2 separate regions of the Homo sapiens genome follow, and region 2 is linked to region 1. The links come from fine-mapping of genetic effects on gene expression. Tissue or cell type: prefrontal cortex. Region 1 holds a variant in brackets; the other region holds the start of a gene. All regions are shown on one strand. Distances are between the middles of the regions.

The links. PIP is the estimated chance that this variant, and not a neighbour inherited with it, causes the effect.
Region 2: SERAC1 starts here. The variant in region 1 is fine-mapped to the expression of SERAC1 in prefrontal cortex (BrainSeq, PIP 0.94).

Annotation. Positions count from the first base shown.
Region 1 is chr6:158,102,743-158,113,331 of GRCh38, forward strand. SERAC1 (serine active site containing 1) reads right to left here. Exons shown (of 17, transcript NM_032861.4): 17 at 6,777-8,760. The coding sequence ends at 8,624. Among named protein-coding and RNA genes, the nearest start is that of SERAC1, 60 kb to the right of the region's middle. The variant AT/A (reference allele first, on the strand shown) is at 5,619.
Region 2 is chr6:158,163,608-158,174,196 of GRCh38, forward strand. SERAC1 (serine active site containing 1) reads right to left here and starts at 4,655. Exons shown (of 17, transcript NM_032861.4): 1 at 4,533-4,655. It overlaps GTF2H5 (general transcription factor IIH subunit 5), which reads left to right and starts at 4,743. Exons shown (of 3, transcript NM_207118.3): 1 at 4,743-4,788; 2 at 6,863-6,931. The coding sequence starts at 6,897. RefSeq lists silencers at 4,453-4,522, 4,563-4,742.

The DNA of each region.
Region 1 (10,589 bases):
CACTGCACTCCATCCTGGGTGACAGAGTGAGACTGTCTAAAAATATATTTTTTCTTTGTATTTTTAAACATCTTTCATTAATTTTTAACTTTAACTTGGATCTGTTTTGTACTTTTACTTTTGTTCTTTTCCTAATCTTAATAGTAGAACTGGGTTTTCATTTTTGGTCTTTCATAGTTAATAATAAAGATATTTAATTAAAGTTATACATTTTCCCTTGATTTTAGCTTTAACTGCACCCTATACATTTTGGAATGAAATTTCCTCCTTGTCATTAATTGCTAGATTGTAATTTGTCGTTGCGTTCTCTTTGATCCATTGGTTATTTAGGAGACTGTATAATTTCCAAATAGTTAAGGGTTTTTTGTTTTTATTTTTGATTTTGGGTTTTTTGTTTTTTTTTTTTTTGGCATTTTAAATTACTTAGCCCTAATTTTATTGGCCTGTGACCTGAGACTATGACCTAGAAAACCATCTACTTTTAAAAATGTGTTAACGTTCGATGTGGCCATGTGGAGGATTGATTTGCAAAGTGGTTTCATCAATATAATTTTTTTTTTTTAGTCATAGGGTACAAAATTGTGTGTGTGTGTGTGAGAGAGAGAGAGAGAGAAATTGATTTGCTGTCAATTACACTCTACCTGCTGGAACAGGTCTTTGTGCAAGGCAGATCTGTGGGGGATGGTGAAGGCTCTAGTTCTAGTTCCAAAGTGATGCCTTCGCCTTGCTCCTACCAAGATTCCTTAGATCTTGCTGAATAAATGTTTCACGATTTGTTGTCAGCCTTTTGGTCAATCTCTAGAGACATTGAATGATGGCTTTTGCTAATTTTGACCAGTTTAATAGATGTCTTTCTGTGGGAGAGGTTTCCCTGAGCAGCTCATACAGCTGTTCCAGAATGTAGACCTTCTGGGCTCTCCGTGTTCTGTAGCATTGGCCTGCTTGTCTATCCGTGTGCCAATACAACGTTGCCTTATTTCATTTAACTTTGTTATCTGATAAGCACTCTCACCATATTCTTTTTCTTTAAGAGTATCTTGGCTATTTTTGAGTCTTTGTATTTTTAGATCAATTTTAAAATCAATTGAAGTTTCATTTTTTAAAAACCTGTTGCAATTTTTGGGATTGCATGGAATAGAATAGACAGCTTTACGGTATTGAGTCTTCAGTCCAAGAACCCATCACATCTCTTCATTTAAGGTTTTCCTTGATGTTTCTTAGTTTTTAACTTGTAAAAAGTTTCAGACATACATTAAATCAGAGGGAATAGCCTGGACCCTCGCATATCTGTCACCTGGGATTTAACAGTAATAACCCTTTGCTATATTTGCTTTATATATTTTTCCTTTGCTGAAATATTTCAAAGCAATTCTGCTATCATACTTGATTCCTCGGTACTTTCAACGTGTATCTCCAACATTTTCTTTCATAACCTTAATGTCATTATTATATCTAACAGACAATACTTATTTTAAAATTCATTTGCTATTTTTTACTAGTATACTTACAGACTTTTTATATTGAATGCATCAGCAACCTTGCCAAACTCTCAAAATTCTAACAATTTACTGTATTTTGATACACCTAGTATACCATCAATTATCAGACACACCATTTATGTACCATCATTCTTAAGACGGCTTCCAACTAAGACTCAGTAGCTATTGTGAGATGCAGCCCAATTACAGAGATGTTCAAATATTGTGAAATGTGTCTTGGAATTGATAAAACATGGTATCTGTGGTTTTTTTGGATTTTCTATGTAAATAATCATATTAGCAAACAATGAATTTTGTTTATTCCTTTCTCATCCTTGTATCTTTGTGTCTTTTTCTTGCCTTACAGAGTTGGCTAGGACATTTAGGACGATGTTTAAAATGCTGCTGGTAGGCATTCTTGTGTTATTCCTGTTCTCAGAGGGAAGATGTTAATATTTTTACCACTAAGTATGATGTTTACTGTTGTTGTTTTTTTCTTTTAATATCCTTTATTGACAAAATTCTCTTCCTGGCTTGCTAAGTTTATCTTTTGCATGAATAGTGGTTGAATTTTATCAGATATTTTGTGTGTATTGCAATGATTATGATTTTTCCTTTTGTTTAATTTGGGGAATTACATTGATCAATTTTTCAGTGCTAAGCAAACCTTGCATTCATTCATTGCGTAACTCCAACTTGGGGAGATTATTTTACCCCCTTAAATATTGCTGGCTTTAATTTGTCAATATTTTTGCTTGGGATTTTTGCAGCTACATCCATGAGAACGGCTTGTAACTGTCCCTTTTTTATACTGTCCTTGAATGGTTTTGGTATCAGAGTTTTGTTAACCTCATAAAATGAGCTGGGGACTACACTCTTTTTCTATTAACTGGGAAAACTTGATAACATTGGAACTATTTCCTCCTTAAACTTTCGGTAGCACTCACCAGTCAAGTTCTGTCTAGGTTTGTTCTAAGCTAATTTTAATACATGAAATATAGGTCATAAATGTTCTCTGATGATTTTCAGCAGTAAGAATATACTGATAATCTCGAAGTCATAAATATGGCTAGTCCTTCCTGACCAGTAAGGAACAGTACATTGAATTCACTTGGGCCTATAGTTTGTGAGATTTTAAAACCACTTATTCTATTCCTTTTATAGGAATAGGACTATAAAAGTTTTCTATTTCATAGGCAACTTGGGTAAGCTGTATTTTCCTTGGAGTTTTCTATTAAAAATTGAGTAGTATTGGCCTGAAAGTATCTATTAATATCCTCTTATCTTGTAATGTGTGCATTGTAGTGATATTTCCTCTTCCTTCCTAACATTGGCAACTTGTGCCTCTTTTTTCACTTGATTGTGTCAGGTGGGTCTCTTATAAACACATATAGTAGGGTGTTATTTCTTATCCAGTCTGACACACTATCTTTTAACTGGGGCATTTAGCTCATTTACATTTAATGCAATTATTACTATATTTGGGTTTTCACTTGCCATGCCATTTTGTGCTTTCTCTTAGTACCATCTGTTCCTTATTTCTTTTCCCCTCTGTTTGTGCCTTAAGATTTTTTTTTTTTATTCCCCTTTTTCTTCTCTCCTAGTTTGGAATTCATTATATACACTATTTTTTGTCTATTATTGGTTATCTTAGAAACAAAATACGTATCATTAAATTCTCAAAGTCTAGTGATAATCATTGTTTTACCTTCCTCCTAAATAACACAACAACCTTGGAGCACTTAACTCCATTTACCCACCCCCAACTTATATGCTATAGTTGCTGTGTATTTTAATTTTACATATTTTAACACCCACTTGATATATTATGTTTTATAAAATTTTTATTTAATTTATCCTAGTAGTTACCTCTTTTTTCACTCCACATTCTTTCTTGAATTCCAGTGCCTCTGGCTGGATCACTTGCCTTCTGCCTTCCATTAATGAAGGTCTGCTGGCAGTAAACTCTTTTTCTTTATATAAAATGTCCATTTCATCTTAATATTTTAAGTGTTTATGATTTGTACTGGATGTATAATTCTAGATTGCAAGTGGTTTTCTTTTAGCACATTGACAATATCATTCCAGTGTCTTCTGGCTTCCATTGACTTAGGACTTCTCAACAGCAGCAATTTTAACTGTTGTTCTTTACACATTTTTCTCTAACTACTTTTAAGATCTTCCTCTTGTCTTGGCTTTTCTGCAGTGTCCCTATTCTCTGTATAGATGCAGATTTATTTTTATATGCTCTGCTTTGGATTAACTTCTTCAGTCTGTGGAATGAGCCACCACGCCCGGCCTCCTGGATGCTATTTCTATAGATAAAATAGTGGGCCAGGTATGGTGGCTCACGCCTATAATCCCAGCACTTTGGGAGGCCGATGTGGTGGGATCACCTGAGGTCAGGAGTTCGAGACCAGCCTGACCAATATGGTGAAAACCTGCCTCTACTAAAAATACAAAAATCAGCTGGGCATGGTAACACATGCCTGTCATCCCAGCTACTTGGGAGGCTGAGGCAGGAGAATTGCTTGAACCCGGAAGACGGAGGTTGCAGTGAGCCGAGATTGCACACTCCAGCCTGGGCGACAGAGCAAGACTCTGTCTCATAATAATAATAATAATTTATTTTTGCCAATAAATCATTATTATTTTCTTTGTAGCTCTTTGATCAATTAAAAACATTTCGTCTAGATTCTTTAATTGTCCTCACTGGGAGATTAGATCCAAATGATCTATCCTGCTATTACTGAAAGCAGAAGCCTGTTATTATTTTTTAAGATTCCTTTTTCACTAATATTCCATCTTATGTTGCAATAACTTGACCAGTGAGCACAGTGGCTATGATTTGGATTTTGACTTTTACAGAGCTTTCTTTTTAAAATAAATTGTGTATCAAAGTAACAAATACTCAGCTGGGTGCAGTGGCTCACGCCTGTAATCCCAGCACTTTTGGAAACGGAGGTGGGTGGATCACTTGAGGTCAGGAATTTGAGACCAGCCTGGCCAACACAGTGAAACTCCCATCTCTACTAAAAATACAAAAATTAGCCGGGTGTGGGTGGTAGGTGCCTTTAATCCCAGCTACTTGGGAGGCTGAAGCAGGAGAATCGCTTGTACCCAGGAGGCGGAGGTTGCAGCAAGCCGAGATCGCGCCATTGCACTCCAGCTTGGGCAAGAGTGAGACTCTGTCTCAAAAAAAAAAAAAAAAAAAGAAAAGAAAAGAAAAAAGTAACAAATACTCATAAAATTAAGCATTAAAATATGAAAAGTTAACCCAAAATCTACCCAGAAGTAATCATAAACATTACTTTAGAAATCTTTCTATGTGTATTATAGTGTCTGGCATTTTACTATACATATACACATAGATTTCTAGAATATATAAAACATGTTTATTAAATATAGGTTATTAAATATATATTCTAGAATACATATATTTTTAATGTTTAATATTTAGATAGTATGCTATATGTCATATGGTTTGTAAATTATGTTTAATATTAATGACATATAGTATGATGGCATACTATATGTCATTATCTAATAAACTTACCTTAGGCTAAGAAGGTAAAACTAGAACTGCACAGTATTCCCCAATTCTTGCAGGCTTGAGCATGCTGGTCCATTACCTTTGTACCCATTTCAAGGGCAACTTAGCTGAGCACACAATTCTTTCTCTCCAACATTATTGTTTTCTAACATAAGTGTTTTTGTTTTTAGGGTTTTTGTTTGCATTTTAAAGTGTGCTATTTTTATTCCCTTTTTTTTAAATGTCTGGATTGAATTAACAAGCAAATTTGTCAGGAAAGGCACATAGGTCCCTATTCCTTGAGGTGATGTTGACAATGCCTGTCTGTCTATTGCCTTTACAATTGAACAGCTTATCTATTATCTTCTAATTATTTTATTTTGCTTCTGCATCTATTGTGGTTCCATATCCATCCAGCCACCTCTCTATTGATAGAATTTTCATCCATTTCTTTTTTTTTTTTTGAGACGAAGTCTTGCTCTGTCGCCCAGGCTGGAGTGCAGTGGCGAGATCTCAGCTCACTGCAACCTCCGCCTCCTGGAGTCAAGCAATTCCCCTGCCTCAGCCTCCTGAGTAGCTGGGATTACAGGTGCGTGCCACCACACCTA[AT/A]TTTTTTTTTTTTTTTTTTTTTTGTATTTTAGTAGAGACGGAGTTTCAACACGTTGGTCAGGATGGTCTCGATCTCCTGACCTTGTGATCCACCCACCTTCGCCTCCCAAAGTGCTGGGATTACAGGCGTGAGCCACCACACCCAGCCCCATTTCTATTCTTTAATGTGCTGTTTCTACTTCTGTAATTGTGCTGATTTGATTTTCAAGTGCTTTCCACCTTTTCCTTCATCACTTTTTTGTTGTTCAGGGATTATATTTTCTTTTAGAATTGCACCTTCAGCCATCATTTTATACAGATGCTCCTTGATTTACGATGGGGCTGCAACCGCATAAACCCATTGTAAGTCAAAAATGCATTTAACAATCTGATAAACCCATTGTGAACTCAAAAAATTGTGAGTTGAACCATCGTTAAGCTGGGGACCATCTGTACTTGTTTATTTTGCTTTACTGTGTTGCTTATGTGCTATACCATTTCTTTTAATCTTGCTTGTGTATAATAAATTTTATCCAGACTATTCTAATTTAGTTAAGAATACATTGGATATCTCTTCCACATCTTATTTTTAAAGCACGGCTGTATTCTATTAAAAATTTAAGAAACAGGGTTTCCATTCCATACTCTGAATTAATGAACAGTTGTTTCAACTGTGGTTTATCTGCCATGGTTCACAGAAAGCAGAACAAGAAAATTTACTAAACAGGGCCAGGTGTGGTGGCTCACGCCTGTAATCCCAGCACTATGGGAGGCCGAGGCGGGCAGATCACAAGGTCCAGAGATCGAGACCGTCCTGGCCAACATGGTGAAACCCCGTTTCTACTAAAAATACAAAAATTAGCTGGGCATGGTGGCGCGTGGCTGTATTCCCAGCTACTCAGGAGGCTGAGGCAGGAGAATCGCTTGAACCTGGGGAGGTGGAGGTTGCAGTGAGCCGAGATCGTGCCACTGCACTCCAGCCTGGTGACAGAGCGAGACTCTATCTCAAAAACAAAAAAAAAAAAAAAGAGAAAAAATGTACTAAACATATCTACCCCTTCTCCCCATGTTATCACATTGGGTAGTACATTCGTTGTTAGCAACTGTCATATTTGCTATGTCTACTACAGCAATAAATAAGTGGGTTTTGCTAGGTTGTTGTACAATGAAACAATTAATTGTTGATATCGAGTTTATTGATGAGCCATTTACCTTCAGATGCCATACTCCAGTTTTAGCTTCGACTATCTCATTCTACAAAAGTTCACCATCTTCAAAATTTAAACATAGACTTACCATTTGACCAGCAATTCCACCCAAGAGAATCAAAAACATCTATCCACACATAAATTTGTACACAAATGATCATGGTAGCATTATTTATCATAGACAAAAATGAACAGAACCTAGATGTCCATCAGCTGATGAATGGATAAAGAAACATGGCATATCATACAATGGAGTAATTTCGGCCATAAAAAGAAATGAAGTAGTACTGATACATGCTATATCATGAATGAACCTTGAAAACATGCTAATAGAAGGAAGAAGGCAGAGAGGGCCACATATTGTATGATTCCATTTACATAAAATTCCCAAATCCATAGAGACAGAAAACAGATTAGTGTTTACCGCAGGCTTGGGAAAGCAGAGGTGGGAACTGACTGCTCATGGGTATGGGGTTCTTTTGGGGATGATGAAATAGCCTGAAATTAAATAGCAATGATGTTGCACAACTCAGTGAACTATACTAAAAACCAATGAATTGAGCCTGGGAACAATGGCTCTGGCCTATAATCACAGCATTTTGGGAGGGTGGCTTGAGATCGGGAGTTTGAGACCTGGGCAACACAGTGAGACCCTGTCTCTACAAAAAAGTATTTATTTATTTTTTAATTACCCAAGTGTGGTGGCATGTGCCTGTAGTCCTAGCTGCTTGGGAGGCTGAAGCAAAAGGATCTCTTGAGCCCAGGAGTTTGAGGTTACAATGAGCTATGATCATGCCACTGCACTCCAGCTTGGGCAACAGAGTCAGACCCTGTCTCTAAACAAACAAAACAAAACAAAAATGAATTGTATAATTTAAAAGGGTGAATCTTATGGTATGTAAATTATATCTCAATAATGCTGTTACTCTAAAGAAAAAAAGGTCATCGACATGATTATCTACTACTCACATGCTATAGAGGTCAATTAATACCACTTGCAAATGAGCAAGGAAGAAGAAAGGTTTATTTAGCCAAAGAGAATCTGAGAATCTTGATACTAAGAATTGCTAATTCATATAATGGCTTAGAATAGTTTTACTTCATACTGTGATCAATAATGGATTAGCTACTTTATCCTTATCTAGGACAAATTCCAAGCATAGGCAGCTACAGTCTGAAAAGAATTATTATAAGCTAGAATTTTTCTAAGAAAAAGATTTGTTCTCAGGAATACGAAAATAGATACAAGGAACTGACCCAGACATGACAATAAGTCTAACAAAGTTAACACTAGTAATAATGTGTCAGATAAAAGGTAGAACTGAGCTAAAAACTCAAACTTTAAAAATGTACAGCAAATCAATACCCAGAAGTAAAAGAGTCTTGAATGTTCTAGTTCATTCTTCTCTCCATTTTAGGTACTCTCTTAATGGCATTTTTATGGTAAGTTGAGTTACCTCAGAACCTGCCGTGCCCCTCCTGGATGCACCAGGAAAGTCACAGATGGGAAAGGACACTCTCTCACAGCAGCTTTGCTCCAGTCACCAAGCCCAACACTGCGAACCATAAAGCAGCACACAGGGACTTCTTTACACCAAAGGGGCCCAATCCAGCCCTTCCTTCTGTGCCTGCCACTTCCGGGTTGGTGCTTTACAGCGCTTGAAGGGAGAACAATGTTCTGTAGTCTGCAACACACTCCAGACCATGTTGACGCTATGATCACTATGTTTGCATGATTGCATAGAGCTTAAAAGAAGAAACAGAACACCAAGTTTCTTGCACTGAATTCACATATGAAAACTGGAAGAGCACAACTGTTAGTTTTCAAGGTCTTTGGCTAAAGCTTCACGAATGAATTGTAAAGTACGCTGGTACAAAAAAGCATCCTTTTTCTTTGGCTTACAAATGTTCAAATGGTTAACATCCACAGGAATTAGATCTCCAATGCCTAAATCTGAAGAAAATAAAAAAGTCAATAAACCTAAGTAAAAATATAAGCTTTCCCCTTGACAATACTGAAAGAGGCCGAATGGGTAGTTCTAGACATTGCTTTGGTTGTGACAAGGGACTCTTAAAAGATAAAGGAACCTGAAGTTTGATTGCAGCTAAACTACATTTGATGAAACATGCAGGAAGGGATTCTCAGTCAGTAGAACCATAGTTTTATGCTTTCCATGAACTTTTCGTATGTGTTCTGGCCTACTTCCTTATTTCAGAGCAAGCAGAGATTGAGCACTAACATATTCAAAACCTTCTTACACCTGCAGGTTATTGCTAAGTTACTTCAGAGTTTCTATTATAAACTTCCTTTCTCCTGGTGAAATGAATGGGAATGTCTCACATGGGATCCATTCTATACCTAAATCCCAATAATCACTTTCAGGGTAAAAATGATTTAGTGCTTGAGATATTTCGGTCTAACAAAGTCCCCTCGCACGGAAGTGATAAGAGGTACTAGTGAGGCCACCTAGGTGAGGAATGCAGGTGGTGGTTATGAAGGAAGAAAAGCCTCTTGGTGACAGAATTAGGGCAAGGCTATGCCACTCCAAGCAGCTGGTCCATGATATTAACTTTGCTTTTGGGCGAGGCACAGTGGCTCACACCAGTAATCCCAGCACTTTGGGAGGCCAACGCAGGAGGACTGCTTGAGGCCAGGAATTTGAGACCAGCCTGGGCAACACAGCAAGACCCCATTTATACAAAAAATTTAAAAATTTAGACAGGTGTGGTGGTGTGCGCCTGTGGTCCCAGCTACTCAGGAGGCTGAAGTGGGAGGAACGCTTGAGCCCAGGAGTTCGAGGCTGCAATGAGCTATGATTATACCACTGAACTCCAGCCTGGATGACAAAGTGAGACCCTGTCTCTTAAAAACAAAAACAAAAAACTATGCTGTTGCTTCAAGCTTCCAAAGTCCTTTTTAAAAACATCTGGCAGCTGTTCTTTGGAACTCTTCAAGTTCTTCAACTACTAAATAGTAACTCCTCAACCTACAGCATATTACTTTAAGGTAAAATTTTTCAGTTCTACTACACAGTATGACATTTTTCATTTTATGTAGATAGCATATAATGAAATTAGGACAAAACTCATTATGTAGACAAAAGAACCATCTGGCAAGCACTCCAGATGCATGCTGTCCCTAGCCTGAAGGACCCACAATGTGGCTGGCTACCACCAGAACAGCACCTAAGCCAGCCTCAGAGGCAGTAAGAAAGGGGTTCCCAGAGATAACAGGCAAGCTGAAGACATGGCCAGGTGAGGCAAAAGCAGTTCAGGTGGTGAAATGTACAGGGTATCTAGTATGTACAGAGTAACAGAGGAGTCTATGAAGAGAGTTAATTAAGATCTGGGCTCCTCCCTCAAAGAATCTATAATACATTATATGACACTAGAGAGCAAGCACTGGCCATTTCCCTCAACCCCAGGATCATGAAGAGATTGTAGTTCAACACTAGTTTTTCCCACTGGAATATTTCTGGAGCTTTACTATTCCCCATGGATCTTCTATTTACGAAAGCTTCCACACTTTTAGATGATTTTCTTAAGGGTTCTGCATGTAAATATAAGTCTAAGTCTATTAAATAAATGCCCCTTTTGATCTAGCTGATAGAAGAGCTTTCTTTACTGCAAAAGAGTTCACTGTTGATGCCTAACTTAGAGTTAGCCAATTAACCCTTCTCATCTAATCAGTTACATAAAGGGCAGGGAGAGGTAATACCCGGGTTATATGTTTACAGAGAAATTTTAATCTATTGCTGAAAAGAATAAAAGAAATCAAATCTA
Region 2 (10,589 bases), 61 kb after region 1:
ACATCTCAAAACAAACAAACAAAAAACCCTAATGGAATACATATGTATGGACCTATTCCACTCCATCGATCTATTTATCTATCCTTATATAAACACTGCACTGTTTAGATTATGTAGGTTTTTTGTTGTTTTTTGTTTTCTTTTTGACAGAGTCTCACTCTGTCGCCCAGGCAGGATGGAGTGCAGTGGCCTGATCTCAGCTCACTGCAACCTCCGCCTCCCAGGTTCAAGCAATTCTCCTGCCTCAGCCTCCCAAGTAGCTGGGATTACAGATGCCCACCACCATACCTGGCTAATTTTTGTATTTTGGGTAGAGACAGGGTTTCACCATCTTGGCCAGGCTGGTCTTGAACTCTTGACCTCGTGATCCACCCGCCTCGGCTTCCCAAAGTGCTGGGATTACAGGTGTGAGCCACCGCACCAGGCAGATTACTGTAGTTTTTAAAGTAAGTCTTGAAGCTAGTAGTATAAATTTTCCAGCTGTGTCCTTCCTTTTCAAGACGGACTATTCTAGGTCCTTGGTACTTCCACATAATTTTAGAGTCTGCTTGTCAATTTCTATTTAAAAGCACCTTTAAGATTATGGGGCCAGGCACGGTGGCTCACGCCTGTAATCCCAGCACTTTGGGAGGCCGAGGCAGGAGGATCACGAGGTCAGGAGATCGAGACCAGCCTGGATAACCCGGTGAAACCCCATCTCTACTAAAAATTCAAAAAATTAGCTGGGTGTGGTGGCGGGCACCTGTAGTCCCAGCTACTCAGGAGGCTGAGGCAGGAGAATGGCGTGAAACTAGGAGGTGCAGCTTGCAGTGAGCAAAGATTGCGCCACGGCAGTCCAGCCTGGGCGACAGAGCGAGACTCCATCTCAAAAAAATATATATATATATTATGACGGTGATTACATAAAATCTGAAACACTGATTTTAAGTAGAGAACGGAGAAATTTTGAGACTAAGAAAGACACAGAAAATAAAAGGGAAGAGATTATAATTTAAAAATAAAACAAATATTTGAAAATTCCATTAAGTTTAACAATATGGAGGTCACTGGGATCTTCATATCAGTAGCTTCATTGCCCTGGTGGAGGAAGCCAGAGTGAAACATCATTTCATGCTTTCATTCTGATTAATAAAACGTGAGTTGTAGCTAGGTACACAGACAACAAAAAAGACTACATCACCTTTCTTTCTTTCTAGTTAACTATGGGCACTTACAAAGAATTGGCTAATGAAATATGAGTGGATGTGTCATGTGCAATTTCTGAAAAGTGTCCTTAAAAAGAAGGGTATGTGCCTTTCTTCCTCCTTCCCTCCTCCCTCTTGCTAGAATGAGCAACTGACAGTTTGAATTAAAGCAGTCATCTTAACACCAAGCATCTTATTAAGGACGGTAGAGCAGCCAGATAGAAGAATCCGAGTCCCTGATGATTACAGAGCTGCTTCCATAAAAGCATGGCTGCCTACCTATGCAATTACATACATATTTAAGCCAGTATTATCTTGTTTTCTGTGTAACACAGCTGATTCCAACACACCACAGTTTTTTGTTTTTTGGTTTTTTTTTTGAGACAGAGTCTCTCACTCTGTCACCCAGGCTGGAGTGCAGTGGCGCGATCTCGGCTCACTGCAAACTCCGTCTCCCAGGTTCACACCATTCTCCTGCCTCAGCCTCCCAAGTAGCTGGGACTACAGGCGGCTGCCACCACGCCCAGCTATTTTTTTGTATTTTTAGTACAGACGGGGTTTCACCGTGTTATCCAGGATGGTCTCAATCTCCTGACCTCGTGATCCACCCGCCTCGGCCTACCAAAGTGCTGGGATTACAAGCGTGAGCCACCGTGCCCGGCCCAGTTCTTAATATCTATATGCCAGTGATCTCAGAGTACCTCTAGCTACGATCTTTCCTGACCTATCTATCCAACAGCTATTGGAACATTTCCACTTGGATGTCCAACAGGCCTTTCATACTCAACTGTCCAAAAGAGAATTCTTTACTTTTTCTCCCCAAACTCTTCCTCCACAAATCTTCTCCATCACTATCCATCAAATGGTCAATGCTTTTTGATTGTAAATGGTAAATGATCTACCTCTTAACTGAAGCAAAAAAACAGATGTTGCCCTTGATTCCTTGTTTTCCCCTTACTCTACATCTAAACCACGCAGAGTTGCTCTTCTCTACCATCAAAACATACCCCCAAATCCATCCATTTTTCTCTGTATTCACTGCTACACTCTTGTCTAGTTCAAGCCAACATCATCTCTCATTTGGAGTAATAAAATGACACCTCAAAGGTGCTTTTTGTAACTTAAGAAATCCTTCTCAGAGACATTTAAAAAAAAAGTTCTGGAGATAGATAGTAGTGCTGGTTGCACAATGTGAATGTCACTGAACTCAACAACTCAACATGGTTAACATGATAAATCTTATGTGTAACAAGATTTAACAAAGCAAACAAAAAAGAAATCTTTCCTAGAGACAATGGTCTCTTATATTCCTTTCCAAATACCTTGCAGCTGTGCCATTCACATTTAGGTCTTTATCTGGAAACTGTTGTCAATAGTTTGAAAGTAAGAATCTAATCCTGTCTGTATACCATAACAATGCCAGATATCTCAGCAACCATATATTTCATCATCCTTTATTGAATAGTCTATGCTTTCCCCCTGCTTTGCAATACCACTTAGTGGTATACTAAACTCCCGTATGTAAATAGGTATGTTTCTAGTGTCTCTATTCTGTTCCATGAATCTAATTCTCTATCCCTGAATCAATATCATACCATCTTAATAATTACAACTTTATATTAAGCTTTGGTATCTGATAGGGAGAGACCTTATTTTTCTTCTTCTTCAAAATTGACTTCACTATTCTTGGTCCCTTGCCTTTCCATATAAATTTTAAGTTCAGCATGGCAAATTCCATAAAACAATATGGTGATTTTAATTGGCATTACACTGAATTCGTAGAACTGAGGAAAACTGACATCTTTTTGTTGAGTCTTTCCATCTATTAATACGGTATATCTCACCATTTACTTGGGTCATCTTTTGTGTTCCAACAGAGCCTTACAATTTTCTGTCTAAAGGACTACACAGCTTTAGGTTCATCTATTTCTAGGTACCTTTAGTTTTGAATGCCATTATGAATAGTGTCTTTTTATTATTAAAACTCCTAGTTAATTGTTACTGGTATACAGAAGTTTTTAAATGCAGAAATTAAGGCCATTTCTGACATCCCCCTGGCCAAAATAACCCCTCTAGTCACTCTTTATCACATCACCAAATGGTACTTATTCCTTAACTGATTTCAGAGTCTCTCTGCCCCCACCAAAATTAGTTACCTGTTCACCATTGTATCCCAAGCGTCTAGAATAATAGCTGACACACATCAAGTGCACAAAAATGGAACTGATGAGATCAAGGAAGAGAATGTATGCAAGATGAAAAAAAGCAAATAAAAGATACTTGGGAAGAAGAAGACTTGGAGGCAATTTTTTTATTTTAAAGAGAGTGCAACAATATGGAAATCACCAGTTGGAAAAGATTTGAGGGATAGAAAGAGGGAACTAAATGGAAGAGCTGGGTTCCTTAGCGATCACATGAACACACACGATGTTAAAAAAAAAAAAAAAAAAAAAAAGGCAGCATGAGGTCGGGCGCGGTGGCTCACACCTGTAATCGCAGCACTCTGGGAGGCCGAGGCGGGGGATCACCTGATGTCAGGAATTCCAGACCAGCCTGGCCAACATGGACAAACCCCGTGTCTACTAAAAATACGAAAATCAGCCGGGCGTGGTAGCGCACGCCTGTAATCCCAGTTACTAGGGAGAATGAGGCAGGATAATTGCTTGAACCCAGGAGACGGAGGTTGCAGTGAGCCCAGATCGCGCCACTGCACTCCAGCCTGGCAGACAGACCGAGACTCCATCTCAAAAAAAAAAAAAAAAAAGGCAGCATGAGCTTAATGCGGGAAGTACAATTTAACCTAAGGAACAGAAAACAAGAATCTCATATCTCAACTAGTAAAAATAATGACAGTGTTCCTTTAGACTTACAGAACAGACTTGGGGAAAGGGAGTAACTTTAGAACCTTCTGGGGTCTTTCACTTTAAAATGACCGTTGCCGAGTTTAGAGCTCTCTCAGCATTCAATCTATTCCATCTCTGGGGTTAGAGAGGGAGCAGGAAGCGGTGGTCTGCAAGGCTCAGAAGTGACTGGTGAGGCCCTTTCCTCCTCCTCCTCATCTCTCCGTGACTACCGAGCCCGGGAAGACGGACCGGCAGGTGCACTCCCCAAGGCCTCGACAGCAGCCAGAGAAAGGCAGCGACAGGGAAAGACGAGTCAGGCTCGCGACCACCAGAGAGAGAGGCCCTCACGCCCAGCCGAGCGTCAGCTGGTCGGTCCGGTCCGCGCGCCAGACGGCGGTGCTCGGCCGTGCCCGGTCCCTGCCCTCCCCATTCTCCGCTCCCCACCGCGCCCAGCTGCGCCGACGCCCCCGTCCGCCCCCACACCACCCCTGCCTTCACGTCCTACCTGCCGGCAGGCGGACTCAGCCCGTGCCCAACTGCTCGTCGGACCCCGTTGTCTGGGGAGCCCTACTCTTTCCGCGGCTCCCGGCCGGGACCCTCCACCCGGCGGCTGGCGGCTCGTGACCCCGCCCCCTCGGCCCGCTCTGGGCCCGCCTCCCGCCGGCTGGCTCCACCCACAATAGCGTCCCTAGCGCGATGGCGTATCGGCGCAGGCGCACTCTGCCGGCAACGCCGAGGCGCTTCTGCATCTGTGGGCCGAGGTGTGTGGCGAGCGTCCGAGCGGCTGGGGAAAGTGGGGTGTGGGAACACTGAGGGGTCCCAAAGAAAGGGGAGAGGAAGAGAAAAGCCCCAGAAGCCTGTCCACCGGGTGCTGGGGGCACAGGGCGGTGTCCCCCACTCTCTCCGGGCCCTTCCTGGCGGGGCCGCACGGCAGTCCCCCCCTCGTTTAATCGTGGGTTTCCTGTGGGGCTAGGGCTCGCCCTGCGCCCAGGTGTAAGTGGAAGTTAATTAAATGGGCGTACGCTGAGTGGTTTGTTTCCAGCCTAGGTCCGCACGGGACGTGATTTATTTAGTGAAGGGGCACAAGATCTGGAGATCTGGCTTGTACTTTTTTCCTTTGGCCAGGAACTACGGCTTAATCTCTTCCTTTGGTCTCCTCATATGTAAAATGAGGTGGCTGAGGCCGGGCGCGGTGGCTCACGCCTGCAATCCCAGCACATTGGGAGGCCGAGGCGGGCAAATCACTTGAGGCCAGGAGTTCGAGACCAGCCTGGCCAACATGGTGAAACCCCGTCTCCACTAAAAATACAATAAATTGGCCTGGCGCGGTGGCTCACACCTGTTGTCCCAGCACTTTGGGAGGCCGAGGTAGGTGGATCATTTGAGATCAGGAGTTCGAGACCAGCCTGGCCAACATGGTGAAACCCTGCCTCTACTAAAAATACAAAATTTGGCCTGGCGTGGTGGCGGGCGCCTGTAGTCCCCGCTGCTTGGGAGGCTGAGGCAGGAGAATCGCTTGAGCCCGGGAGGCAGAGGTTGCAGTGAGCCGACATCACGACACTGCGCTCCAGCCTGGGCGACAGAGTGAGACTCTGTCTCGAAGTGTATATATACATATATATATATTATATATGTATTTTATATATAATATATATTTATTTTATATATAATATATAATATGTATATTATGTATATTATATATAATACGTATATTATATATAATACATATATATAATATGTATATTATATATTATATATAATATTATATTGTATATTATATATTATATATAATATATTGTATATTATATATATTATATATTATATATATTATATTGTATATTATATATAATATATTGTATATTATATAATATATTGTATATTATATATAATATACAGTATATTATATATAATATACTGTATATTATATATAATATATTGTATATTATATATAATATATTGTATATTACATATATTGTATATTACATATAATATATTGTATATTACATATATTGTATATTACATATAATATATTGTATATTATATAATATATAATATATATTATATAATATATTGTATATTATATATTATATAATATATTGTATATTATATATTATATAATATATTGTATATTATATATAATATATTGTATATTATATATTATATATTGTATATTATATATTATATATAAAAGTGTGTATATATATACACACACACACACACGATACAACACAGTACATTAGCTGGGCTTAGTAGTGCATGCCTGTAGTCCCAGCTACTCGGGAGGCTGAGGTGGGAGGATCGCTTGAACCCAGGAGGCAAGAGGTTGCAGGGAGCAGAGATCGCGCCACTGCACTACAGCCTGGGCGGCAGAGCCAGACCCTGTCTCAGTAAAATAAAATATAAACTAAAAGGAGGTGGTTGGGCTCACTGTATAATTTTTGAAGCACCTTTCAGAACTATCTTCTTTGATTCCTGTCTCCCAGGATCTTACCCTTTGTCATTCTCCTGAATGGGAAAAGAAATCCTTTGAATAATGGACGGTTTATACCTGGGTTGGGCACACTGGTGTAGAGTTAGGCCTCTTGCTTCTATTAGGGCTAATTGACCTTGGGTAGAATTGGCTGGCGAGTAAGATGTGGCATTAATATTCCAAGTAGACTCATTTTAATTTTGTTAAAAAATCAGAATGTCTTTTTTCTTAATGTTAACTGTCTTTCATAGACTTAACTGTTAAATATTGACATTTAATTATTTTGCCTCGTTTCAGAGGCAGATCCCCAAAGTATATGAAAGTTAATGATTTTTAATTTAATGTTACCTTACTCTTTTTATTAGCATTCTTCAGGTCATCTGAACCTTCTGAGAAAACATGGTCAACGTCTTGAAAGGAGTGCTTATAGAATGGTTAGTAGTTTTGATACTGCATGAGTTTTAAGTTTAAATATTGAATCTTGACTTGTATGTATGTCTTTTCTAAAACCCTGTTGTTTTTAAGATATGGATGAAATCAAGTCTTTCGCTTTTAACAAGTGGCACAGATTTTGTTGCAAAGCTCCTGGTGCCAGATTTCAGTCCCTCTGTTGAATTGATGGAACTGGCATGATCAGAGGCAGCATATTTGTTAGATGAGTCGTCTTTAGAGAAACAGTGCTTGCATTCTCCTCAAACATGATGAATTTTAGGGCCTGAAAGAGTTCAGGAACTTGCTTAAGTCTTTACCATTACAAACTGTGGACTTTAAAAAAGAGAAAAACAACAGAGCCAAATGGAGGTTTCTTAAATTCCTTTAGGTACATTCCAGAGGAGAAACTAAAAACCATAAATGGGCAGAGTTGAGTTCCTCAAAGCAATCCAGTGTCCAGGAACCCCGGGAACCCTGCTCTGTGGACACTCCCATTGTCTGAAAATACTACTGTCTACTTTCGGTGCCTCTAATATGAGCCAGTGCATGGATAATGATACTGTTTACTGTGATGGCAAGGCTAAGGAGGAGCAAGACCAAACCCTAGGACACTGCCAACATTTAGAACAGCACTAGCCAATAGAAATCTAATGCAAGCCACAGATATAGTCTTACATTTTTTCTAGCCATCTTAAAAGTAACGTAAAATGAAACAGGTGAAGTTAATATCTTTTGTTTAACCCTGTCTATGCAAAACACTATGCTTTGAACACATACTAAGTCTTCAAAAAAATCTTCATCTTCAAAGTCGAATGGATATTTTAATTTTACAGCACATCTCACAGACTAACCGTGTTTCAAGGACTCTGTAGTGACCTGACTAGTGGGCTACCTTATGCATAGTGCAGATTTGGAGTTTTGATACAGGAGACACCAACAAAGGCAACTAAGAAGAAAATAGCCAGTGAGGCTGGAGGGAGGAAAGCCAAAGGAGGAAGTGTTTTGTAGGGATGAGCGGCTGTGTTGGGCACTGATTGAGAACTGGCATGAGATGAAGACTGGAGTTTTGATGAGAGCCATTTGAATGGAGTGGTGGGGAGATGCCAGATTGAAGTACTGTGGAAAAGGAAAGGGAGGTGAGGAGGTGGAGATGGAGACTTCGGAGAAGTTTTACTGTGATCATGAGCAATCTCATAGAGAACTGGATTGGTAGCTGACGAAGGACATGGTGAGGGGCTCAGGTTCTTGCTATTTTTATTTTAATGTGAAAGACTAGAATGTACGTTGATGAGAGTAAACCACTGCGGGGGAGAGGTATTCACTTGGAAAAGCAAAGGGGGTGGGATCTGGACCCCAGAAGTTCTAAACACACTGTTCTGTTGTCTTTTGAAGGCACTAGGTTTGATGTACTTATTTTCCTATTAATTTGACATAACATAAACATTTTCCTCGTTGGCCTTTAGTGTTATTTTTAAATACAGAGGATACACATACACAGAGTGTCAGCTATCACTTTTTTTCCCTCGTTTCTTCCAATTCTAAGTTTAATCTTCACCCCTGGGTTTGTTAAATATTCACTTCTCTCTTCTGAGGGTTTTGTGTTTTTCTTGGTGTTTTAGATTCATTCATCTAGAATTTATTGGGAGGAGTGGCATAGGTTTGTTAAATATTCACTTCTCTCTTGTGGGGATTTTGTGTTTTTCTTGGTGTGTTAGATTCATTCATCTAGAATTTATTCAGAGAAGAGACATATTATTAGATAAGGATCTAAATTAGCTTCTTTTTTTTTTTTTTGACACGGAGTCTTGCTCTGTTGCCAGGTTGGAGTGCAGTGGCGCGATCTTGGCTCCTGGATTCAAGCGATACTGCTGCCTCAGCTGCCCGAGTAGCTGGGATTACAGGCACACACCACCACACCCGGCTAATTTTATTTTTGTATTTTTAGTAGAAATGGGGTTTCACCATGTTGGCCAGGCTGGTCTCGATCTCTTGACCTCATGATCCACCTGCCCCGGCCTCCCAAAGTGCTGGGATTACAGGCATGAGCCACTGCACCCAGCCTAGCTTCTTTTTTGTTTTGGGTGTTTTTGTCTGTTCATTTTGCCAAATATCTAGTTCTCCACCATTATTTCCTTTCTTAATGATGCTTGATGCCTCCTTAATCACATAATTTTACTCCCCTTGCTATTCTCTTTCATCCCTTCCCACATTCATCTTTCTTGTTGCCTATTCTAGAATAACCTTGAAATAACTTAGTCTGTTTCCAAAATAATCCTTTTGGCATATTGGTTGGAATTGCATTAAACCTACGTTTTAATTTGAAAAAAAAGATGACTGGATTGCATCTTAAAGAACAAAACTCTGGGGAGACTCTGAAGTCTCAGTGCCCGGTTTGCTGTCCCGTATCTAACCTCTGAATTCTACCTGGTCTCTCTAATGACTGTCCATCACCTTGCACTTCAGGGTAATCCCCAGACTAGCAGTAATAGCATCATCTGGAGCTTGTTAGAAATGCAAAATCTCAGACCTCACCCTAAATCTACTAAATCAGAATTGTGCATACAAAGAATCTTGTTAAGATGCATTTAAATTTTGAGAAGCAATAATACTGTTAATCAGCTTCAGTTTAATAATGTTTCCCTGTGGAGAAGTGTTTTGCACCAGGACTATTAAATTTTATTTTGCAGGTTAGGTACCATCCTTGCAAAACTAATTTTTCCCTTTGAAGTGAATTCTAAAGTGTAGTCTGCACAATTTTTCAAAAGGGTAACTCTGTCTTCCCAAAAACACAAGTCTTCCAAAAAGATTTTGGGCCTAAGAAATAACATAGATTCCCAAAGGAAAGGGTATGGCCAGTGCTAGTGGATTCCCTTTCACAGTTAGATGCAGATGTTAGGATGGTAACTGGAAAAGTCCTTCAGTTTCCCTCATGTCCATATTTGATGCCAAGGAGAAGCCTGTTAATAATATGATTATCAGTATAAGTCTGTTTATTACTTCATAATATCCATGGATTGTATGAAGCATTTAGGTGTATTGGAGTATGGAATTTGATAGGTCTGGAGTTTACAGGCAGACCACTCAAGGATCTTCTACAGCTGTTGCAGGTGAATACCAAAATTGAGGCTCAGCCCTGGAAGCCAAGTTGGTTTTTGGCTTCATGCAGGAAAGAATTCAAGAATGAGCCACAGAGTAAAGTGAAAGCAAGTTTATTAAAAATGAGGGAATAAAAGGGTGGCTACCCCATAGGCAGAGTGGAGTGGGGAGGGTGGGAAGCAGGCGGGCCTGCTAACTGGCTATTTTATGGCCATTTCTTGAGTATATGTTAAACAAGGGGTGGATTATTCGTGAGTTTTCTGGAAAAGAGGCAGGGATTCTGTGGAACCAGGAGTCCCCAGTCCAGACCATACGGGGTAACTTCTAGATATTGCCATGGCATTTGTAAACTGTCGTGGTGCTGGTGGGGGTGGTTTTTAGCGTGCGCATGCATTATGATTTGTGTATGATAGTGGTGAAGGTTGCTTTTGTTGCCATCTTGGTTCTGGCTGGTTTCTTTACTGTATCCTCGCTTATCGGTGGGGTCTTCTGACCTGTTGTTTACTGTCTCTCTTGTCTTGGAAACTAGTCCTGCTGAATTCCTATCTCACAGCTGCTTCCACT